6 separate regions of the Homo sapiens genome follow, and all the other regions are linked to region 2. Evidence: fine-mapped expression QTL. A gene starts in region 2. Each other region holds a variant in brackets. All regions are shown on one strand. Distances are from middle to middle. Region 1 overlaps SPTLC2 (serine palmitoyltransferase long chain base subunit 2). Region 2 holds the start of SPTLC2 (serine palmitoyltransferase long chain base subunit 2). Region 3 overlaps SPTLC2 (serine palmitoyltransferase long chain base subunit 2). Region 4 overlaps SPTLC2 (serine palmitoyltransferase long chain base subunit 2). Region 5 overlaps SPTLC2 (serine palmitoyltransferase long chain base subunit 2). Region 6 overlaps SPTLC2 (serine palmitoyltransferase long chain base subunit 2).

What was found. PIP is the estimated chance that this variant, and not a neighbour inherited with it, causes the effect.
Region 1: its variant is the best candidate, but not a certain one, in a credible set for the expression of SPTLC2 in lung (TOPMed, PIP 0.52).
Region 3: its variant is the best candidate, but not a certain one, in a credible set for the expression of SPTLC2 in whole blood (INTERVAL, PIP 0.75).
Region 4: its variant is the best candidate, but not a certain one, in a credible set for the expression of SPTLC2 in whole blood (TOPMed, PIP 0.87).
Region 5: its variant is the best candidate, but not a certain one, in a credible set for the expression of SPTLC2 in tibial nerve (GTEx, PIP 0.54).
Region 6: its variant is the best candidate, but not a certain one, in a credible set for the expression of SPTLC2 in whole blood (INTERVAL, PIP 0.63).

Annotation. Positions count from the first base shown.
Region 1 is chr14:77,504,586-77,508,660 of GRCh38, forward strand. It overlaps SPTLC2 (serine palmitoyltransferase long chain base subunit 2), which reads right to left. Exons shown (of 12, transcript NM_004863.4): 12 at 1,412-4,075. Among named protein-coding and RNA genes, the nearest start is that of ISM2, 7.8 kb to the left of the region's middle. The variant T/C (reference allele first, on the strand shown) is at 2,168.
Region 2 is chr14:77,614,145-77,618,233 of GRCh38, forward strand. It overlaps SPTLC2 (serine palmitoyltransferase long chain base subunit 2), which reads right to left and starts at 2,493. Exons shown (of 12, transcript NM_004863.4): 1 at 2,304-2,493. The coding sequence starts at 2,435. RefSeq lists enhancers at 1,750-1,959, 2,288-2,820 and silencers at 2,140-2,339, 2,480-2,529, 2,860-2,919.
Region 3 is chr14:77,523,394-77,527,482 of GRCh38, forward strand. The region is part of intron 9 of SPTLC2 (serine palmitoyltransferase long chain base subunit 2); the gene reads right to left. Among named protein-coding and RNA genes, the nearest start is that of ISM2, 27 kb to the left of the region's middle. The variant A/C (reference allele first, on the strand shown) is at 1,855.
Region 4 is chr14:77,557,020-77,561,091 of GRCh38, forward strand. It overlaps SPTLC2 (serine palmitoyltransferase long chain base subunit 2), which reads right to left. Exons shown (of 12, transcript NM_004863.4): 7 at 22-127. Among named protein-coding and RNA genes, the nearest start is that of SPTLC2, 58 kb to the right of the region's middle. The variant A/G (reference allele first, on the strand shown) is at 1,564.
Region 5 is chr14:77,517,118-77,521,206 of GRCh38, forward strand. SPTLC2 (serine palmitoyltransferase long chain base subunit 2) reads right to left here. Exons shown (of 12, transcript NM_004863.4): 11 at 921-1,050. Among named protein-coding and RNA genes, the nearest start is that of ISM2, 20 kb to the left of the region's middle. The variant C/T (reference allele first, on the strand shown) is at 1,774.
Region 6 is chr14:77,510,545-77,514,627 of GRCh38, forward strand. SPTLC2 (serine palmitoyltransferase long chain base subunit 2) reads right to left here. Exons shown (of 12, transcript NM_004863.4): 12 at 1-1,859. The coding sequence ends at 1,740. Among named protein-coding and RNA genes, the nearest start is that of ISM2, 14 kb to the left of the region's middle. The variant A/C (reference allele first, on the strand shown) is at 1,734.

The DNA of each region.
Region 1 (4,075 bases), 110 kb before region 2:
AAATACATGTATTCTGAATCTTTTACTCCAGCCTGGGGTTTGCTTTTCATTTTCAGTCTTTTGAAATTTTCATTTTGATCAAGTCCAACTTATCAATAATGCTTTTTGTGTCCTCAGAAATCATTCCTAAAGTCACAGATTTTCTCTTCTGTTTTCTTCTAGACATTTTATAGTTTTAATTTTTGTGTTCAGGTGATTTATTTTGAATTATTGTATATCTATGAGTTAAGGGTTGAAGGTCATTTCTGCCCATATGGATATTTAGTTGTTCTGGGACCATTAGTTGAATTATCTGTACTTTCCCCACTGGAACTACCTTGGCAACTCTGTTGAAAATCAACCAACCTTCTATGTGTGGGTCTATTTCTGGACTCTAGTATGTTTTACTGATCTACATGACTATCTTAATGCCAACAGTAGTGTCTTGATTACTGTAGCTTTACAGAAAGTCTTGAAATCAGGTAGTGTAAGTTCTTTTCCAAAATCGTTTGGACTATTCTAGGTCCTTTAGATTTCCATATAAACTTTATCAAATTGTCCATGTCTACAAAAACACTGAGAGTTATCTGTTTCCATACTTTAAACTCCTCACTGGGCCGGGTGTGGCAGCTCATGCCTGTCATCCCAGTATGTCAGGAGGCTGAGACGGGAGGATTGCTTGAGGCCAGGAATTCGAGACTGGGCAACACAGTGAAACTCTGTCTCCACTTTAGGTAATAATTTAAAAAATTTTTTAAAAACCCAGCCCTTTCACTAGTCTGACCCCCACCCCCTGCATAAGAGAAAGACCTCACCAAGATCTACAAAGCCCAGTGAGTCTGCCTCTACCACCTCCCCACTACCTCACCTCCCCACACAGTTTTTAATCAAGCTCCAACTGTACTTTATTTCAGACCCTCCACGTCCTCAGTTTTCTCTCTCACCCCTGTCTAAACCAGATCATGGTTACTGTCTTTTTTTTTTTTTTTTGAGACAGTCTTGCTCTATTGCCCAGGCTGGAGTGCAGTGGTGTGATCTTAGCTCACTATAACCTCTGCCTCCAGGTTCAAGCGATTCTCGTGCCTCAGCCTCCCAAATAGCTGGAATTATAGGCACGTGCCACCATGCCTGGTTAATTTTTGTATTTTTAGTAGAGACGGGATTTCGCCATGTTGGCCAGGCTGGTTTCAAACTCCTGACCTCAAGTGATCCACCTGAAGTGCTAGGATTATAGGCGTGAGCCACCGCGCCCGGCCTGGTTACTTTTACCAAGCTCTTTACTTTTCCTCCATAGCACTTAACAGTTTGTAAAATGACATGTATGTTCATGTGCTTATCTGTTTACTAGCAAGTAGGAACCACAAAGCTCAGTGTGCTGCCCATCAGAGAGATAGCACTCAATATGTATTGGTTGAATGAATAAAGGCAGATATATCTTTCTGAATATTTTATTAGGGCAAAACAAGATATTTGCATGGGATGCTTCTTAAGTCATCTCAAGTAGTTCCCCTTCAGTTCTTAACATGCACTCTCAAAATCAACACACCTACCCCAACCCAATACTCATCGCTTCACAGTCATCCAGTAAAGTACAAAATAAAAATAAAAAAATCATCATCTGGCAAAAAAGGGAAACAGGGTAAGAGAGAGTGACATTTTAACACATTACTAAAATGTTTAAGCTTTTATTTACACATCCCCTTCTCTCAGTTTCCCAGGTTATATGAACATTACAGCAATAGAAAGGGGTTATCATCACAGCATCCCCTTGCAAATTCCAGTTTACAGGTAACTTGGTCAGGGGAAAAATATGGGTCAACGAAGTAAGATCTCAGCTCTCCCATAAGCTATTGCTCTCTTCTTCTCTTTCCCCCTTCTCTTAATGTTAGCTGCCTGTTACAGAGAGGGATCATCAAGACTGTGTGGACATGCTAGCTGAATTGACAGGGTGGGTTCCAGTGTCCTGTGAAGAACCAGCAAGGATGCTTTTTATAATTCCAACCATTGGCTTCACATCACTGAGGTAACAAGACTTAATGTTAAGGGTAAAGACACCACGCCACCCTAGTCAGTGACATGTACTCCACTTTCCAGGAAGACCTGGGCCAAATGACCAAGCTTTGCAAAAGAAACCTGGGAAGAGCGTTGGAAAAAGCAGACTCTGAGTTGGCTTGAGTCTCCTCGTGCA[T/C]AGAAGCATTCACTCATCCATGCAGATGGCAACAAGGCAGGACACTCAGAAAGCATAAGATCAAGGTACTGCTCTTATCTGCACCTTTCATTCAAGCTCCCCTCAAGTGCTCCAAAAGAACAGAGCTTTGGGTATTGCTTCATTAAGAACACAGTAACTGCAGTTTAAAAGCCATTGCATTCTTTAGGGTCAGTTTATTATAACTTATCCTACCAGAAAGAATCACAGTTTAAGGCCATTTATCATGTGCACTATGTAGTAAACAAAACCTTGTCCCCAGCTCCACCAAGCCACTCCCAAGGGTGGACTGTGAATGTGACACTTCCAGACTCACCAGAGATTAGAAAAAACATTTCTATTAGGGTCTTAACCTAGCCCCTTTGGTTTCCTCCCTAGAAAAGAGCTGCTTAGAAAACAGATGTCACTGGAAATGACAAAAGGAACAACAGTATTTTCTATACATTAAAAGCAAAGGGATCATTGGCTAGCACTAGCATTTATTCTGTGTGATAGGGAAGCCAGCCCTCTAATTTGGCTCTCTGGCTGGGCACATGGCAATGGCTAGGGGCCTGGGCACACCTTTTTTTTTTTTTTTTGAGACAGAGTCTCCCTCTGTCGCCAAGGCTGGAGTGCAGTGGTGTGATCTTGGCTCATTGCATCCTCTGCCTCTTGGGTTCAAGCAATTCCTGTGCCTCAGCCTCCTGACGTAGCTGGGATTACAGGCATGTGCCACCATGCCCGGCTAATTTTTGTAATTTTAGTAGAGATGAGGTTTCGCCATGTTGGCCAGACTGTTCTCGAACTCCTGGCCTCAAGCAATCTGCCTGCTTCAGCCTCCCAAAGTGTTGGGATTACAGGTGAGCCACTGCGCCCAGCCATGGGCACATATTTCATGTGGATAAAGTTGAGGCGAGAAAAAGACATGTTTTTCTCCACATGGAAGGTATTTTTTAAACTGGTTTAATGTATTAAGATGGCTGCTGGGCACTGAGCATCCACGTGAAGCAAGTAGCAGGGTATCTGTAGGTTCTGGGACTGAAAAAAAAAATCCCTGTAAGTTCTTGGCTTAGTAGCCAAAAAATAATCTTTGCTTTTTATACCTCCCCATTCACAACCCCTTTGGGCTAAGCTGATTTAAAAAACATTTTTTTCTTAGATGGGGTCTTGCTGTGTTGCCCAGGCTACGCTCAAATTCTTGGGTTTAAGCAATCCTCCGGCCTCAGCCTCTCAAGTAGCTGGGATTGCAGGCTGCATCCGCACCCAGCTCCTAACAATTTTTTTTCCCCCTCTTATTGAGCCAGGGTCTCACTCTGTCACCCAGGCTGGAGTGCAGGGGTGCAATCATGGCTCACTGCAGCCTTGACCTCCCAGGCTCAAGTGATTCTCCCACACAGGTGGGACTACAGGCAGGCACCACCATGCCCGGTTAATTTAGAAAAAAATTTTTGTAGAGACAGGGTCTATCTTGCCCTGGCTGTCCTAACAATTCATAATCTTCATGAATGTGGACAGTTTGAAGGAAAACCACTACTCTCACCTCTTTTTCTAAGCACACGGTTATAGCAAGTAGAGATTAAAGCTCATTGGCTTACCTAGAACACCAAGAGAGGAAAGATACCTTGGGAATTAGGTCATAGCAATGCTTCAAACAACAACTGCCCATAACCCTACAAATCCTTGCAAAACAACAGTTACTCACATTCTTTCTTCACGGCCTACGGCATGACTGGCAGTTCTGCACTGTTGCCCAATCCCGGATCACTAGGAACCAGAAATCCTTATCAATTTGGAAAAAGGGGAAAAACATAAAAGTAGTGGTAAATGTCATCACTTTTTTCCTCCCTGAGAAATCAGGAAATCTCTCCATGGAAGCCACTCATCCCCCTGGTTTTCACCAATAAGAAGGAA
Region 2 (4,089 bases):
AGATTTTAAAATGTCATGTTAGTACCTTGATATTTCTTCACCTTATTAGTTGGCAAGCTCTGAAGAAATATCATTCTATAAATGCTAAATTGTTAGAGATTATGGGAGAAAGGTCCTTGATTTCCTACTAAATCTGAACATAACTCATAGGGATTGAAAGAAGCATTTGAACACAAAGCAACGCTGAAGTGTGAACACCTTTCTCTTGACTTCCTTTTTCATTTTAAAAAATCATACCGGCCAGGTGCAGTGGCTCACACCCGTAATCCCAGCACTCTGGGAGGCCGAGGCAGGCGGATCACGAGGTCAGGAAATCAAGACCATCCTGGCTAACACAGTGAAACCCCGTATCTACTAAAAATACAAAAAATTAGCCGGGCGTGGTGGCGGGTGCCTGTAGGCCCAGCTACTTGGGAGGCTGAGGCAGGAGAATGGCGTGAACCTGGGAGGTAGAGCTTGCAGTGAGCCGAGATCGCGCCACTGCACTCCAGCCTGGGCGACAGAGCGAGACTCCATCTCAAAAAAAACCAAAAAAACAAAAAAAATCATACCTCGGCCTGGTGCGCCTGTAATCCCAGCACTTTTGGAGGCCAAGGCAGGCCAATCACCTGAGGTCAGGAGTTCGAGACCAACCTGGCCAACATGGTGAAACCCCATCTCTAATAAAAATACAAAATTTAGCCGGGCGTGATGACGGGCGCCTGTAATCCCAGCTACTCGGGAGGCTGGGGCAGGAGAATCGCTTGAACCCAGGGGGTGGAGGCTGCAGTGAGCCGAGATCGCGCCATTGCACTCCAGCCTGGGTGACAAGAGCAAAACTGTCTGAAAAAAAAAAACAAAAACAAAAACAAAAAAAAAATCATACCTCAATGAAATTCACCTGCAAATGTATTTTCTAACTCCTACCCGTTAAATTTCCCTATTACATTCTATACCACAACAATTTTGTCTTATAAGTCGTTTACATTGCTAGGAAAACGACAAACTATTCCACTGCTTATAATGAGCTGACTGTTATCACTTCCTCCCTCACACAATTATTTCTTTAAAAGTGAAAACAAATCTTTTGATCTGTGTATTACTTCGCTTTGACACCTTACAACTTCAGGGGAGGTCAAGTCTGCTTTACTTATTTTTCCCCTCAACTCAGTCTCAATATCTCAACATGACCTGGAAAAATGCTTTATTTTCTGCTTCGCAGCAAACAGTAACAGACCTATCCATCATAACTACTCATCTGGGGAGTAGTTATGTTAAAGCCAAATTAAGATCACCATCCTATCAAACTGCAACAGTCACACTCCCGCTAAAGGGAAACAGAGTACTTTCTAAGCGTTCCTTAATATCTGTACAAGACTTAAACGTATTAAAGTCAACTGCAAAATTATCGCAACACTCTCTTCCAGGAACACCGATCTTGCATCTTTTTAACCAGCTCATCTTTAAAAACACATTTCAACAGAATATCTGTCAGTCCAGACCACTGTAAGGTTGATAATAAGCATTGTCTTGAATTTAGAACTTTTCAAAATATTTTAGAACTGCCTGAACTTGGTTGATGATTCAGCATGGTTAATTAGTATAGAGTCATCGCAAGTCACCACCAGGCTAAACAATCCCCTTGTGTGATAGCACTCGTGTTCAGGAAAGGGTCGAAGGGGCCACCTAATCCAACCTGGAGCCTGGGGTAGAGTCTCACCACCGGCAGAGTTAAGAGAATGATGCTTTCGAGGGACCAGCTTGGATTCCCTGCCAGATCTATGGACCAATGTCCTGGTTGGGGACTGAACGTGGTAGTCCAGAATGTGGTTGGGAGAGGCTGGGTGTGTTTCCATCTGACACCACCGCCTAATTTTCTTTGCTTCTTAAGGACCCCATGGGTGGTTTTCTTTGGACGACTGCAGGACTTTAAAAGGAAGCAATAACCTCAGGGGTTTGAGAAGGGACCCTCCGGAGCCCTTGGGCGGCTCCCACTGGAGTCCGAAGGGCCCCTCATCGCTTCCCCTGGGGACAGCACACACTTCTGGCAGAATGGGGCAGAGAAAAGTACCCGGAGCTCTGAGCAGAACCCAGAGCTCCGGGAGTAAGACCTCCAGGCGCGGAGAGGTGGGGAGCCCCCGAGCCGTCCTTGAGCCTCCAGGCTCGTGGAGGTCGGGCCAGCGGCCGGACACTGCCGCCCACACCTGCGAACGGCGCCCGCCCCGCGGATTGCCCAGCGGATGGCCCGGAGACCTCGCCCCGCCCGGCCGCCCCTCCGCCAGTCCACACCGCCACCCCGGCCCCGCCGCGCGGGCCCCTCGTACCTGGCCGGCGGCGGCTGCGGCTGCGGCTGCAGCGCTGCTCCTCACGTACCCGTTCCGTACTTCCCCGTTCGCCACGCAGCCATTCGCCCGCACCGTGCGGCGGCAGCAGCAGCCTCCGGGCTCCGGCCGCATCTTCCTGGCAGCACCAGGCGCAAGGCAGGCTCTGTAGGCGGTGGCAGCGGCGGCGGCTGCTCCAAGTCCCGCTCCGCACCCCACCCACCTCCCCGAAACCGGAAATGGCTGCAGCGCCGCCGCCAATTCCCGGGCGGGCCTTCACAGAGGGCGGGGCCCTCTCCGCAGAGGACCGGTCTCGGCCAAGGCCACGCAGCGAAGGGAAAAAGCGGCGGGGACCTGCCGAGAGGGATGTGGTCCTGAGGACCGCTGACCAATCTGGAAGAGAAGGAGGCGGACCCCATGCTGCTGCCTGGCCAATCACGGACGAGAGCAAAGCGCCTCGCCGGTGGAGAGGGGGCTTCTCTAGAGGGACTCCAGGGCCTGGCACCTGATTGGAGGCCGCATCCAGGTCCGGGGTAGGGCTTGCCTGTTTAATGGTCCAGACCGAGGAGGAGGCGGAGCCCAGGGAAAAGTAGCCAATTAGAGTGTGAGGAAATAAAAGGGGCTGAGCCGAAGTCTCTAGAGCGGGTTCCCAGGTTCTCCAGGACAGGTGGCGCCCTCTTTGCCCTTGCCTCGTGGGAAGTTTTGGAGTTTATGTCCTAGCCCAAGACAGGCAGCTCGCTTATTTAATTAGCTGATTCCTCTGTGAGTGTTTATAGAATAGATTTTTTGACAATCTCTCATCATTCTTCAATATGCGCCACACATTCACTATTTCTGAATTATTATAAGTAATAATTCAGATGCCTTTTCACGTGCCCTTCACATTTGCCCTTGGCAGGGTTTTCTATACAGTCTCCTTTAAATTAAGTCTTTCCTTCAAAGTTAGAAAACCTGGTCTAATTCCAACTCTGCCAATAACTGGAAGCTAAAACTTGAGCACTGTGTTTAACCACTTTAGAAGCCAAATTCTTTAAAATGGAGTTAATACTTCCTGCTTCATAGACTTACAGCAAGAATTATATCATTAACCCATTATGCACCTCTTATAATACTAGGCTTATAGTAGGAGTATAATAAATATTATTTTCTCACCCTTTTAGTTCCATCTTCCCATGGGGTTAGAAAGCAAGGAAATTGATCTACATTACAATTAGAGACTTTCTGTTATCCATAAAGAATTTAGTATCATAATTGAGAGTATGGACTCTGGAGTCGGTCTGGGTTTTAAATCCTAGCTGCGCCACTTACTAGCTGAGTGACCTCTATGTGTCTTCATCTGTTCAGTGGGGACAATAATAGTTGTCGTGAAGATTGAATAAGTTTATGTATGTAATGTATTTTGTACAGGACCTAGCAATTAGTAAGCATTCATTAAGTGTTGGTTACTAGTAATTGCTAAATGCACCTATGAGAATCCGTGCATTCTTTCCCCACCCTGCAGGAGCTTTAGAAAGGAGGTCCACAAGGTATTGGTTTTGCATGACTTAGGAGCTGAATAATCTAACAGAAGGTGGGATCATTCATCCCACACATCCTATTTGAGTTGACAAACACTATTGATCCCAAAGTGAATATACATCTGTATGTATAAGGCTAAAAAGGAAACATGTGGCTGTGCTTCATGGAGCTTACATTTCAGTGAGAGACAAGATATACACATAGAAAGAAAACAATAGTTAAAGACCAACCTAAGGCTGGAGAGATTAGGCAACAGGAGTTCTGATGAGGG
Region 3 (4,089 bases), 91 kb before region 2:
ATTGGAGTGGAGAGTGGTCAGTTGAGATCAGAGCTGGGGAGGCTGCGGGGGCTAGAATTTGTTGGGCAGTGTACAGGAGCAGGGAGGTGGGGTGCGATGAGAGAGCTTTAGAGATCTGCTGAAGGGTCCCTTTGAACTTTGGGAAGGGTACTGATTTCTATACGCATGAAAAGAAACTAGCAGAGGCTGGGGAAAAGATCCATCAGAAAGCAATAGGCCAAACAATTCCTGCACTCACATGGAGCTGGGAATAGTTTGTATTTTTGTCCACCAAAATATAAAGATCTTATAATATGTGGGTTATCTAACAGAGTCCTCAGAAGGGGACTCTACTCCTATCACCTTAGTAGTGGAGATAAATGAACCCTAGACTAAAAATTGGTCTGAACCCACCCTAACCTTAAAAGCAAGCTTTGAAAGGATCCTACTGATTCCAAGAACAAAGTCCAACATTACCTAAAGGAAAACAACAAGATATAGAAACTAGCAATGTAAAATTAATGTCCAACATATAATTTTAAAATTCCAGGCATTCAAAGAAACAGGAAAATATGACGTACAACCAGGGGAAAAGTCAGTCAATAAAAACCGACCAAAAATAACGGAGTATTAGCAGATATGGATGTTAAAGGCCATTATAAATATGATCTATATGTTCAAAAAGGTAGAAGAAACATGAGGAGAGAAAGGAAATATATGAAAAGGAACAAATGATTGCTAAGGCAACAATGCTGATGAATCTCAAAATATAATGTTCATTGAAATAAGCCAGACATGAGACTGCACACTGTATGAATTCGTTTGTATGAAACTCTAAAAAGACATACTGTAATGACAGAAAACAGATTCATGGTTGCCAGAAAGTATGGGAAGGCGGCTGATAGCAAAGGGGCAGAAGGGAACTTCCAGGAGGGACGATGAAAATATTCTAACCTTGATTGTGGCATGGGATTACAGGAGTGAGCCACCATGCTGCCCAGCCACCACCTTTAAAAAAAAATCACAAACCTTTTAGCTATCTAATCACAAATTAACTAGCCTCTGTTAAAAAAAAAAAAAAAAGTTTTTTCAAACTAAAAATGGAACTACCATACAATCCAGCAATCCCACTACTGCTGTTTATCCAAATAAAAGGAAATCAGTGTATCAAAGGGATGTGTGCACAGCTATGTTTACTACAGCACTATTCACAAGAGCCAAATACGGAATCATTCTAAGTATCAGCGGATGAATGGATAAAGAAAATGTGGCAGATGCACACAACGGAATACTATCCAGCCATGAAAAGAATGAAATGCTGTCATTTGCACAAGATGGATGGGACTGAAGGTCATGATGTTAAGTGAAATGAGCCAGGCACGGAAAGACACGTATCGCATGTTCTGACTCATGTGGGAGCTAAAAAAGTTGATCTCATGGAGGTAGAGAGTAGAACAGTGGTTACCAGAGGCTGGGAATGGTAGGGAAAGGGGGATTGAAGAGAGGTTGGTTAATGGGTACAAACATATAGTTAGATAGGAGGAATAAATTATAGCTTTTGATAGCACAGGATGACTACAGTTAACAATAGTTTACCGTGTATTTCAAAATAGCTAGAAGAGCTGAAATGTTCTAAACACACAGAAATGATAATGTTTGCGGTGACACATATCCAAAATACTCTGATTTGATCAGAATATTTGATACCGTATGCATCTATCAAAATATCATATGTACCCCATAAATATTATGTATCAATTTTTAAAAAAAGGAAAGCCAGGCACAGTGGTGTGATTCTGGCTACTTGGGGGGCTGAGGCAGGAGGATCTCTTGAGTCAGGAGTTTGGGGCTGTAGTGAGCTATGACTGCACCTGT[A/C]AACAGCCACTGCACTCCAGCCTGGGTAACATAGTGTGAGACTCTGTCACTTACGAAAAATGAGCCAGGCACGGTGGCTCACGCCTGTAATCCCAGCACTTTGGGAGGCCCAGACAGGCGGACCACCTGAGGTTGGGAGTTTGAGAGTAGCCTGACCAAATGGAGAAATCCCATCTCTACCAAAAATACAAAATTAGCCAGGTGTGGTGGTGCATGCCTGTAATCCCAGCTACTCAGGAGGCTGAGGCAGGAGAATTGCTTGAACCTGGGAGGTAGAGGTTGCCGTGAGCGAGACTGCGCCATTGCACTCTGCCCTGGGCAATAAGAGTGAAACTCCGTCTCGAAAAAAAAAAAGAAAAATTAAAAAAATTTAAAAAGGAGGGCTGGGCATGGTGGCTCACGCCTGTAATCCCAGCACTTTGGGAGGCTGAAGCGGGCGGATCACAAGGTCAGGAGATCGAGACCATCCTGGCTAACACGGTGAAACCCCGTCTCTACTAAAAATGCAAAAACAAAATTAGCCGGGCGTGGTGGTGGGCGCCTGTAGTCCCAGCTACCTGGGAGGCTGAGGCGAGAGAATGGCATGAACCCAGGAGGCGGAGCTTGCAGTGAGCCGAGATTATGCCATTGCACTCCAGCCTGGGTGACAGAGACTCCATCTCAAATAAATAAATAAATATATAAAAATAAAGTGGCCTGTTATCCTTTAAAATTGCTAGGCTGAACCATCAAACTGCCAACATGCTACCATTTTTGACCTTAAAGCAGGAAATTTCTTATGGTTTAACTTACTAATTTCAAAGAGAATAACAGGAAAATAAAAGCAGTAAAATAAATGTAGACAAATCAGTAAGCCCTGGCATTTACACGTTAGAAAATAGTTATCCTTTGCTCTTAAAGTGAAACTGAATCTTAACAGACAACATAGTTACCCACTTTGACTTGAGTATCATATAAAATAGCAGTTAATATTTATGCAAGAAGACCAATTGCTATTTAACGCCAGTGTAGTAGCTCAGTCCCAAGGATTTTTCACTGCAGAGTTTCAGCAAGTATCTGGTCTAATACAGACTTGAAACAAAGAAGAAAGTTTAGCACTGTTTAAAAAAATACTGCTCTTAAGAAGTTTTTATCTTTGGCTCCGAAAGAACACAGATGGAAATATAAAGAGGTCAGAATTCTTTCCTACTTTTCAAACATAAATCTTTACTTTTAAGGGTGATAAAAAGCATAAAAGCAATTTGGAGGAGAAAAATCTGTACTGACTCTTGAATTTTACAAATAAACTTAACTGTGTGGCTGTCCTTTTGGACTTCAATATGGTTTGTTAGAATAAAACTATTTTTAGGAACTCTACTGTAAAAAAATCTACAGCTTGGCATGGAAGAGACAGAGAAAAGTAAATATGTAGTTAATTTCTTGGAAAATGTAGATAACTTTAACAGGTCATTTTTAGTCTTCAACCTCTTTACAATAAATCTTATTCTCAGGAAGGAAGGAATAGATATAAAAGATCAATATGCTGTAACAGCATCATTAGATTATTTAGTTCTTTTTTTTTTTTTGAGACAGAGTCTCACTCTGTTGCCCAGGCTGGAGTGCAGTGGCGTGCTCCTGGCTCACTGCAAGCTCCGCCTCCTGGGTTCACGCCATTCTCCTGCCTCAGACTCCCGAGTAGCTGGGACTGCAGCAACCCGCCACAACACCCGGCTAATTTTTTGTATTTTTAGTAGAGATGGGGTTTCACCATGTTAGGCAGGATGATGTCGATCTCCTGACCTCATGATCCACCTGCCTCGGCCTCCCAAAGTGCTGGGATTACAGGCGTGAGCCACTGCGCCCGGCCTCTTTTTTTTTTTTTTTAATTGAGATGGAGTGTCACTCTGTTGCCCAGGCTGCAGTGCAGTGGTGCGATCTCAGCTCACTGCAATCTCTGCCTCTCAGGCTCAAGCGATTCTCCTGCCTCAGCTTCCTGAGTAGCTGGGATTACAGGCAAGTGCCACCATGCCTGGCTAATTTTTTGTATTTTTAGTAGAGACAGGGCTTCACTTTGTTGGCCAGGCTGGTCTAAAACTCCTGACCCTCAACTGATCCATCGCACCAGGCCTAGATTTAGTTCTCTTAAGGAACTAGAAGGCCTTGAAAAGGATGGAGGGTAGAGGTTGAAGGAGCGCCACAATTATCTACCTACTGATAACCACTAGATATTGATAACCTTCAATCACGTTTACAAAA
Region 4 (4,072 bases), 57 kb before region 2:
AGAATAATAAAGCAGGATTACCTATATATTCCTTCCACAAGGATGAGAATTTTCTTCCAGGGCCTTCGTGTCCGAGGCTGACCATAAACAATGGCATCTTTCAATAGCTTCTCTAGGCTTTGCATATCTACAGAGCACAAAAAAGAACAGTTATACCGCATCTTCCTCTTTCCTAACTTTATTCCGGAAATGCAGAGATATATTTCTCATTCAGAAACCATGCCTCAGATAGCAAAGGACATAATTAGAGTTGGGCAGAAAAAAGCAGGGCAAAATAGGTGAATTATTGCCACCTTGAATTGAAATCCAAAATGTAACAAATGTTCAAAACCATCGAAACTTGACTAAAGGACGGTGGTGGCTAACTCAGTTCATTAGCTTCCTTATAAAATGACCAGTGTCTCATGTTAAATACCCTGCCATTAAGTTAGCTTCTGTGTGTTTATCGAAAAATACAGAATCAAACTGTATCTCTAATCCCAGTGAGTCATTCGGAAATAAATGCGTAAAAAAGACAGAGCGAGAGAGTGTGAATAAACCATCACAGACACATACTCCTCCTAAAAAAACAAACGCAAGGCGTAAAAAAACTTCACAGTGCGTGCTCCATTTCCTTTCACCCAGGACGTACTCAATAAACGCTTGTTAAAGAGTTTTATTTTGGTACTGGGTTAAAAATACACCCGTCTGGGGCATGTATAAGTCTGTGTGTTAAGCAAGCCTGACAATCAGTTGAAATTGTTCCATGTTTGACTTCATCAGTTGTCCATAAACAACCAAGTTCTTGTGGCTCTGTTGGTTCTTATGGTGGTTAATGGGCCTGGAAACAACTTGGCTGCTACTGCCATTAATGATGATCATAATTTCCTTGTTAAAGACAAATGCTTTGAAGACCATTGTTGCCACACTACAGATTTCATACTTAAAATACCTGCCCTGAAATGAAGTCCTTAAAAAAAACTCCCCCAAATTTAAGCAACATTAAGTCTGGGGAATACTTAATAGGGGTGGGAGACATCCTATCATAAAATCTTTTTTTTTTTTTTGAGATGGAGTCTCCCTCTGTCATCCAAGCTGGAGTGCAATGGTGTGATCTCTCCTCACTGAGGCCTCCACCTCCAAGGTTCAAGCAATTCTCCTGCCTCAGCCTCCCAAGTAGCTCGGATTACCAGCACCCGCCATCACGCCAGGCTAATTTTGTACTTTTGTAGAGACGGGGTTTCACCATGTTGGCCAGGCTTGTCTTGAACTTCTGACCTCAGGTGATCCGCCTGCCTCGGCCTCCCAAAGTGCTGGGATTACAGGCGTGAGCACCACGCCTGGCCCTATCATAAAATCTGATTTTGTATTCTGTATTGCTTGTAACTGGAGGAAGGAGTTATAAAAGTACATGATTTTGCTCTTTGCAGAAAACAATTTTGACAGAAAAAGAGATAAGGTAATAAAAACACAGAACACAAACACAAATAAGATAGTCTAAGGTTGTGACTGTGCTTACACATTCAGTAATTTCTAAGAAAAAAATCTGCATACGACCTAATCAAGATTCAGGAGATGTTCCCT[A/G]CAGAAGTAAATTACGTCCTGACTCAAAGCCTCCAGTTTTTTTGTTTTTTTTTTTTTGAGACAGAGTCTTGCTCTGTCGCCAAGGCAGGAGTGCAGTGGCGTGATCTCTGCTCACTGAAACCTCCGCCTCCTGGATTCAAGTGATTCTCCAGCCTCAGCCTCCTGAGTAGCTGGGATTACAGGTGCATGCCACCACATCCAGCTAATTTTTGTATTTTTAGTAGAGGTGGGGTTTCACCATTTTGGCCAGGCTGGTCTTGAACTCCTGACCTCAGGTGATCTGCCCTCCTTGGCCTCCCCAAGTCCTGCAAAGCCTCCAGTTCTTAGGCAGAGAGCAATGTATGGCGATCAGCTGAAGACAAGTAAAAACACAGGAATTATTTTAGTTTTCTCTGTTTATATATAGAAGGAGGAGAAAAATAATACTGGTCAAAATTTTAGATAAAAGAAGCATCAGCCAGGTGTGGTGGCTCACGCCTGTAATCTTAGCACTTTGGGAGACCGAGGCGGGTGAATCGCTTAAGGTCAGGAGTTCGAGACCAGACTGACCAACATGGCAAAACCCTGTCTCTACTAAAAATACAAAAAAAATTAGCCGGTTGTGGTGGTGGGCACCTGTAATTCCAGCTACTTGGGAGGCTGAGACATGAGAATCGCTTAAACCCAGGAGACGGAGGTTGCAGTGAGCCAAGATCACGCCACTGCCCTCCAGCCTGGGTGACAGAGCAAGACTGTTTCAAAAAAAAGAAATACCTATAGCAGAATGCTTAACCATATTATCTACTTAGAAAAAAAAATTCAATCTCTCCAATGTTATGCCCCCAAATTCCACATAAATTTAAATAAAAAATATATCGCAAAACTCCCAGAAGAAAACATGAAAGAATAACATTATGATCTGAGAATGAGGAGGGTATTGTGTAAAATCCGAAAGTCGTAAAACAGTAAGTGTGGCAACAAAAACATTTTCATGAGTCTGTACAGGAAGACACTGAAAACAAAGTCAAAAATATAAAAATAGTGCAGTCTGGGCATGGTGAATCACTCCTGTAATCCCAGCATTTTGGGAGGCTGAGACAGCAGGATCGTTTCAGCCTAAGAGTTCAAGACCAACCTGGGCAACACAGCGAGACTTTGTCTCTATAAAAAATAAAAAACACTAGTCCGGCATGGTGGTGGATGCCTACAGTCCTAGCTACTCAGGAGACTGAGGCAGGAGAATCATTTGAACCTAGGAGGTCAAGGCTGTGGTGAGTTGTGGTTCTGCTACTTCACTCCAGCCTGGGTGATGCAGCAAGACCCTGTCTCAAAAAAATAATAATAAAATAATGCAACATAAAGGAAAAGATAATTAATATAAAGGGCTCTTATAATCAGTAAAAAATAGAAACAATTTGAAAATGGCCAATTTATAAAGAAATACAAACACATTAGCTTACAAGTAGAGTTAAAAAAACAGTAAAAATGCAAAAAGTTGTTCTATATCTAATAAGCAATGAAATAAAAACTAACATATTATTTCCTCATTAGATTTGGAAAGATTTAAAATGATTCACCATAGCCTATGTTGGCCAGTGAGTAGGAACAGTCAATCTCATGTTGTTGAGGAAAAATTCATACAAGATGCAAGCATGTGTATGTTCATTGTAGCACTATTCACAACAGCAAAGACATAGGATCAATCTAAATGTCCATCAACAGTAGACTGGATTAAAAAAATGTGGGCCAGGCGTGGTGGCTTATGCCTATAATCCCAGTACTGGGAGGCCAAGGTGGGTGGATTGCTTGAGCCCAGGAGTTCAAGACCAGCCTGGGCAACATGGTGAAACCCCATCTTTACAAAAAATACAAAAAGAAAACACAAAAAACAAAAAACAAAAAACTTGGCCGGGCGTGGTGGAACACATCTGTAGTCCCAGCTACTAGGGTGGCTGAGATGGGAGGATCGGTTGAGCTGGGGAGGTAGAGGTTGCAGTGAGCTGAGTTCATGCCAATGCATGCCAGCCTGGGAGACAGAGCAAGACTCTGTCTCAAAAATAAAAATAAAAATATATATATATATATGTACATATACACCATGGAATACTATGTAGCCATAAGAAAGAATGAGATCATGTCCTTTGCAGCAACATGGATGCAGCTAGAAGCCATTACCCTAAGCAAACTAATACAGGAACAGAAAACCAAATACCACATATTCTCACTTGTAAGTGGGAGCTAAACACTGAGTACATACAGACACGACTAAGGGAACAACAGACACTGGGGTCTACTTGAGAGTGAGGCAGGGGAGGTTGAGGAGGGTAAGGTTCGAAAAACTACCTACCTATCAGGTACTATGCTGATTACCTGGGTGGCGAAATAATCTGTACACAAACCCCCGAGACATGCAATTTACCTATATAACAAACCTGTACATGTACCCCTGAACCTAAAATAAAAGTGAAAAAAAAAAAGTTCATATAATGCTTAGAGGCAATTTGGAAAAGTATTAAAAATGTATACTCTT
Region 5 (4,089 bases), 97 kb before region 2:
TGCCTGTAATCCCAGCTACTCAGGGGGCTGAGGCAGAATTGCTTGAACCCAGGAGGCAGAGGATGTGGTGAGCTGAGATCACGCCATTGCACTCCAGCCTGGGCAACAAGGGCAAAACTCTCTCTCAAAAAAGAAAAAAAAAATTAGTAGCTCTCTAACTCATTAATGGATATTTCTAGCAACTAATTTTATGCAAATGTCATGTTCTAAAGCTTTATAAACTCCCAGATGGCAATAATGATTTAAACTCTGAAATCTTAGACTTGCAACAATAACATATTAAGAGAATATATAGAGATGAGAATATCTTGAGATAATAAATAATTAAGCTTAGTAATAATGATCCCCAACTAGATGCCTGGCAGTGTGGTGGGTGCTGGGATATAGAATCAGTAAAACAGACTTATTCCTATCCTCAATATTTATCTAATGGAGAAGACTGCTATTAAATAATTATAGGTGTGAAGAATTTAGTAAGGGAGAATCTCAGGATTCCAAGGGAACACAGAGCAAGAAGGTGTGGGGCGCCCCTGAGCAATTTTCCTTTAAATGGAGATGTGAAGAATGAGTGGCAGTCAGCCAGGCAGAGGGGAGAGAAAGCTCAAGAGAGAAAATTTTAGACAGAACAACATATGAGAAAGCTTAATGTAGAAATAGCTAGAGTGGAAAGAGAATTGTAGAGTCCATAGTGAGGGAGACAGTAGAGCAAGACAAAGCCGGAAAATTCTCCAGAGCTCTCATGATGCAGGTGTGGTGGGTGACAGTTTTTTTGTAAATGCCAATGTTTTTGGTAGCACTGTCACCCCCTCTGTCTTAGGTGCTCACAAGAACATCAAGATCAATATATTATGAATTTCATCTAATATACAGGCCCTTTTAATAAAAGGCATATTTATATCAAGGTGAAAGTGCCTACTTACAGTATCAAGTATTTCTTTGGTATGAGCTGCTGACAGGCAAAACCTGGCTCTGGACTCAATAATTGGGGTGGCAGGAAATCCAACCACAACGACACCGATGTTCCGCTTCAGCATCTCCCGTCCAAAGGCGCTGCAAAGGGGAAAACAAGAACAGAAACCAGGAGGAGTGAAAAAGCACTCATTACAGAGGACCTGCTGTCCTCAAAGATTTCAACTCTTTGGTGATGCAGGCATTGGAGACTTCTAATAGGAGTTTCCTTTAACTCCTTTTAAAGTTAAAATTGACAGCTCACAAATACTTTTAAAGTCAATCCTAAAGCAGTCTTCTCCTATATGGTGTCCTTCACAAAACTGAAATAACCAGCCTGGGCAACATGGTGAAATCCCGTCTCTACCAAAAATACAAAAAATTAGCTATGTGTGGTGGCATGCACCTGTAGTCCCAGCTACTCAGGAGGCTGAGGCATGAGAATCTCTCGAAGCTTGGAGGCAGAAGCTGTAGTAAGGCAAGATCACACGACTGTACTCCAGCCTGAGCAACAGAGCAAGGCTCTGTCTCAAAAAAAAAAAAAAGTGTCCCTGATATGTAATAGTGGTTCAGAGGCTTCAAAATGAACCTGTATTTAATTAAAATCTGGTCCTTGAAATGTTAAGCTTGGCAGTTTAACATTAATCCGCAAATTCTGAGGATTCTGCAGCTGTGGGGGATCTGCTGTAACACGGCACATCTTTTCTGCTAGCAGAATGGCTGACTGGCATGAGCTCTCCAGATCACACGTTTCTTTAATTGTCTTGGGAACAACACTGCTTCAGAATTCAGGGCTTCCTTTGGTGTCTGTCAGGCCAGTTCACC[C/T]GCTGGCTTCAGCTGATTACTCAGACCACACAATTCGTATTTAACAATCCCCCACCCCTATCGTAAGCCAAATTGGAGGCCCTGTGGCCTTACTCCACATCTGTATCTTGTCTAAATAACACATTCTAACTTTTAGTTAATTTTGTCTACTAAATTATGTGGGTTTTTTTTTGAGTCTCTCGCTTTGTCGCCAGGCTGCAGTGCAGTGGCACGATCTTGGCTCACCATAACCTCCACCTCCCAGATTCTAGCAATTCTCCTGCCTCAGCCTCCCGAGCAGCTGGGATTACAGGTGTGCACCACCACACCCAGATGATTTTCGTATTTTTAGTAGAGACGGGGTTTCACCATGTTGGCCAGGATGGTCTCGATCTCCTGACCTTGTGATCCACCCACCTCGGCCTCCCAAAGTGGGATTACAGGTGTGAGCCACTGTGCCTGGCCCAAATTATGTTGCTTTTTGTCTTTTCCTCTTATTGACCTCCCTTATGTTTCAACTTTTCCTTTAAGCTGTTTACAGCATTTGTTTGAGAATAAAAAAATGTGGCCGGGCCAGTGGCTCGTGCCTGTAATCCCAGCACTTTGGGAGGCCGAGGCGGGCAGATCACCTGAGGTCAGGAGTTGGAGACCAGCCTGGCCAACATGGTTAGACCCCATCTCCACTAAAAAATACAAAAATTAGCCAGGTGTGGTGGCACACATCTGTAATCCCAGCTACTGGGGAGGCGGAAGCACAAGATTTGCTTGAACCTGGGAGGTGGAGGTTGCAGTAAGCCGAGATCACGCCATTGCACTCCAGCCTGGGCTATACAGATCCTGCACATTTGGCATTACATTAATGCCAGTCTTTTCACAGCCTTTTCCCACTCTCTGTAGTACCAGTACATCTTCCTCAACATACCTCCTTTGTGTCAGCATGAACCTGGGTGCCCTGTATCTTCAGCACATGCTCCCAAACTGTCTAGTGCCTTATTCTAATTCTTTACCTTCTCTAAATCTTTTTTTTTTAACTTCTTAAATGCACAAATTTATTTTTTCTCAACAAACACACATCTTAATGCCTTTACAACTTTTATCTCCCCAAATATACCTTGCTTTTCTTTATACATGCTGTATACAGAGTTGTTTTCCTTATATTTAGTAGTTATTGCTTTTTTGTGCCCTTTTGGGTCCTGTACCTTCTCTAAATCTTTCCTAATTAAAGTGTACACAGTCAGTTGCACCTATGTAGAATAAAGGAGACACAGCCTTCTTTAAAGAGAGCTCTAGACTGAGTCCTTTGGATCTGATAACTCTTCATGTTTGTTTATGAGAATTCCACTTAAAGAAGAATGAAGAAAATCCTTCCCCATCCCCTCTGAAGCCATAATACCAACTGCCCATATGACTTCATGTTGAAACCCAAATTCTTCTTTTTCTCTCAGGGAGCACCTTTTCCTTACTTCCCTTTCATTCTCTTTGAATCACATTACTTCCAGGTTCCCTGATTTAATTTCCTCTCCCATATTCATTTCAGTAAACATTTACTGAGTGTCGGAGACTGTGGTGGACACTGGGGATTCAAAAATTTACAAAAATTGCTCCTTCAATGAGTTCAATCAAACTGGAGAAATGCTTTAAGATCCAGCTCAAAACTCACCCATCCAACAAGATGTGCCTTTCTTACTGAGCCTATACTAAGCAGGTCACTCCTTTATTCTACATCTTCAGGGCCACTTTGCATATAATAAAATTTGTTCAGTATAATTACTGTTCATTTGCTTTTCAAATGTCTTCTGGTTTCATTATACATCTGGACTTCTCAAATACATTGAAAGCTATCCTAGGGCAGGGCTTTCCATTATGTATGCCTCATACAAACCAAAGAAGCTGGTGTAATCTGCACACCTGGTAAGTATCCAATAACACACTCTGATAAAACCTCTCTGACCTCATGGCCCACTGCTCGCCCTGGGGCACGGTGCTCCAATTCCAGGGACCTCTTTGCTACTCTTCCGTCAGCTAAGCAAGCTCGCTTCTGTACTGTGGCCTTTGCACAGATGCTTCTTTCTCCAGTGGCTGTCAGCTCCTTCAAATCTTTGCTCAGATGTCATTTTCCTTCCCAAGGAGGCTTCCTTACCCTGACCACCCTATTTAATAGTGTTATCGGCCCGCCCACAGGGCACTCTCAACTCCCCATATAGGTCCTGCTCTATTTTTTTCCATAGCACTTGACACCTTCTAACATCGTACACAGTTCATTTGTTTATTATGTCTGTCTGACTGTTGCCCCCTACTAGACTGTAAGCTCCACAAGGACAGAGATGTTTGTATTTT
Region 6 (4,083 bases), 100 kb before region 2:
TCACTGCAACCTCCGCCTCCTGGGTTCAAGCGATTCTCCTGCCTCAGCCTACCAAGTAGGTGGGATTATAGGTGCCCGCCACCACGCCCAGCTAATTTTTTGTCTTTTTAGTAGAGACGGGGTTTCACCATGTTGGCCAGGCTGGTCTTGAATTCCTGACCTCAAGTGAGCCACCTGCCTCAGCCTCCCAAAGTGCTAGGATTACAGGTGTGAGCCACCGCACTCGGCCTGTAACATGACTTTCATACACTGTTTTTCCATTCTGTTCCCAATCCTTCTCCTGTAATACTTGATGGATACAAAAAGACAAACTGATCCTGGGTATAATATGCCAAAAGTCCTCTTCACTTAAACTTTGGTTCAACTGAAAAAATAACTTTAAAATGGTGATTTTCAGATTTGTTCTTTGGTCAGGCAGTATAAAGCTCTCTGAAAGAAGTCCCTTTACCTGGTTATAGTATGAAAACAGTCAAAATAGAAAATGTCAGTTTAGGAAAGAGATCTATGTGTTCAGAATTTCTCAGAAAAAAATAAAAAATATGTAGACAGGCAGACCCTAGCCCCAGATGCCAGATTCAATTGACTTAGGACATCAAGAATAAAAGAGAACTAGCATTCAGAAGAGTAATATTTAAGTGGGTTAGCTTCTAAGAGGCCTAAATTAATAAACCTAATCCTTAAATAGGAACATGATAAATGCTTTCTGAGCAGAGGATTTACCAACAGTTTCCTTTATCAGTTTAAATCCTAATCTGGACCCAGACCTAGCCAGAGACTGTCATAATTTTCAAACGTAGAAAGCAGTAGGAAATGCAAGCCACAGGCTCTGCAAGGAGTAATCAATTCTTTGCACACTGCCACTGCCCCTGCCCCTCACCCACCAGGAGTGCACATCACTCTACGGAGCAGCTTTGTACCCAACACTCAGATGTGAGAGTGGCCTTCTCACCAGGGTGGGATATGGGTGCTCTGAAAACAGTAAGTGCTTTAAAAAGGGGGTGGGACGTGTTACGGTTAGAGCTTGGGAAGAACCAGAATTTGCGCACATCCTCAGACTGTGACCATTATGAAGAAGTATTTGATGGTAAAGGAAGAAATCATCTGGTGACCAGAAGAAAATGGAATAAGACCAAACCCTTGGGAGATTACACAATGAGCCTTTCAGCAGTCATCGCTTACTGTTTTTCTTAAAAGGCTAAACTTAAGATTAAAGGGTGAAAACTTCCGTTGATTACTTGAATGGTTAAATAAGGATTCCAAGGTTGGCCTTGAGACCTCTGAGACCTGGATGGGAAGTAAGTGGAAGGCACTTGCTCCCTAGGGAGGAGGGCCAGGTAAGTATCCAGGCTGCGGAGCCAGGGCCAGCAGTAGCTCTTGATGGGCCCAAGTCTGCAAGGTGCTGGGAGAGGGGAATGGCCTGTGTGGTTAGCCAGAGACAGGCTAGGGTCAGCGTGATTTCACAAGTAGAATGGTTGCAAAATAAAATGTTTTTTTAATGGACTGAAAAAGCAAAGTGAGTCACCTTCGTTTTTAAAGGTGAGATTTAGCAAAGGAAGGATTAGAAGCAGTTTTTTACTATTTACAAAATGTCATTTAGAGTGGAGGTGGCCACCTTCAGTAGCTGAGGCAATGTCTTTCACGTGAGATGGCCACAGAAGTGTGGTTCCTGGAACTGGCTCACAAAGGCCACAGGCTGTCCTGGGTGAGGGAGAGTTCCTCTGAGGGAGCACCAA[A/C]AAGGCTCAGTCTTCTGTTTCTTCATACGTCGTCTCGTCAAAGGGCCTGTCCAGTAGAGGTACCAACCGATGACGGGAATACTTCAGCTGCAATAGGTCCCCAACTTCATCTATCTCCTTTAAAGCCTAAAATACACAAGACAAAGTAGAGGTCTGTCAGAGCCAGTAGGATGCAGGCATGCCTGGTGTTTTACTTTGCTAAAAACAATCATGGCAAGATTATCCTTCGGCAGGACTTATGTCTAGTGCATTTACAAGATCAGACTACAATACAGCTGTGGAAGGAGCTGCTTTTTGAACAAGGCCTTCAAGCTCACCATGAATAATGGGTTGTGAATAGCCAGGTATGCAGAATAAAGGCTATAATTCAAAGTATGATATGCTTGGTAGAAAAAGTTATATGCACTCTGAACTTACAAAACCGAATACAATTTGTCATCTCTCCCTTTTGTTTTTGAGATGGAGTATCGCTCTGTTGCTCAGGCTGGAGTGCTGTGGCGCCCTCCGAGCTCACTGCAACCTCCACTTCCCAGGTTCAAGTGATTCTCCTGCCACAGCCTCCCAAGTAGCTGGGATTACAGGTGCCCGCCATCATGCTCAGCTAATTTTTGTATTTTTAGTAGAGATGGGGTTTCACCATGTTGGCCAGGCTGGTCTTGAACTCCCAACCTCAAGTGATCCACCACCTTGGCCTCCCAAAGTGTTGGGATTATAGGCGTAAGCCAACGAACCCAGCAACTTTTTTTTTTTTTTTTTTTTTTTTTTTGAGACAGAGTCTTGCTTTATTACCCAGGCTGGAGTACAGTGGCACCATCTCGGCTCACTGCAGCCTCTGCCTCCTGGGTTCAAGAGATTCTCTGCCTCAGCCTCTTGAGTAGCTGGGACTACAGGCATGTGCCATCACACCCAGCTAATTTTTGTCCAGACAGGGTTTTGCCATGTTGGCCAGGCTAGTCTTGAACTCCTGGCACCAAGTTACCCACCCACCTCTGCCTCCCAAAGTGTTAGGATTACAGGCATGAGCCACCACACCTGGCATCTTAAACTTCATTTTTTTAAAAAATCAGTGTTTGGAGAGAGAAAACCACCAGTATTACTGATGTATTGTAGCACAAGAAAAAATATTCTTCATTTCAAAATGTGAAAAATATAAAAGCAAATAAGAGCTGAACGTCAATGTGCTATCACAACAGCGGTACCTCTGAGAAGAGGTATAAGTGAAAGCTCCACATGGAAACAATTTAAGTCTGAAATTAAGCTGGGAGAACCCATCGACCATTTATTCACCTGACCTCTGTGACAAGATGTAATAATTTAAGACAAAAGTCAAAGCTGGCCGGGCGCGGTGGCTCATGTCTGTATAATTCCAGCACTTTGGGAGGCTGAGATGGGCAGATCACCTGAGGTCGGGAGTTTGAGATCAGCCTGACCAACATGGAGAAACCCTGTCTCTACTGAAAATACAAAATTAGCTGGGCGTGGTGGCACATGCCTGTAATCCCAGCTACTCGGGAGGCTGAGGCAGGAGAATCGCTTGAACCCAGGGGGCGGAGGCTGCGGTGAGTTGAGTTCATGCCATTGCCCTCCAGCCTGGGCAACAAGAGCAAAACTCTGTCTCAAAAAAAAAAAAAAAAAAGTCAAGGCTGAACACGGTGGCTCAAGCCTGTAATCACAGCACTTTGGGAGGCCAAGGCAGGCGGACTGCTTGAACCCAGGAGTTTGAGACCAGCCTGGGCAACATAGTAAGACCTCGTCTCTTAAAAGAAAAAAAAATTGGCAGGCATAGTCCCAGCTATGCTGGAGGCTGAGGTGGGACGATCCCTTGAGGCTGGGAGATGGAGGCTGCAGTGAGCCAAGATCATGCCACTGTACTCCAGCCTGGGTGACTGAGACCCTGCCTCAAAATAATAATAATAAGACAAAAGTGCACATGACTAAGATCACAAAGTAATGGACATTTATAAACTTTAGAAGAATCTAGAATTTTTTCATCAATGTAGAAAAGTAATCATTAGATAGAAAAAGAAATCCTCAGTAGCCCAAGGGGATCTAGATTACAAGATTTCCTTTGATCCCACTCCAAATATTTCAGACAAATCGGTGTCATGTGAATATAAGATGACATTCTAATGAGTGCTGACTCTTGTGTGGGGTATTTGGGTATGTTAGGGACAGGCAGCCATTACATGCATCGCCATTCATTAACAGTCTACACAGAACCTCTAGATCACAGGTAAGGTGGGTTTCTAGGAGAAAAACATGTATTCATTATAGAGCTGAGTAACCGAATCCTCTAGGACAGCCATCCTGCCGCTCCCCTGAGCCAATATCCTTGCGCTTCCCATTTTAA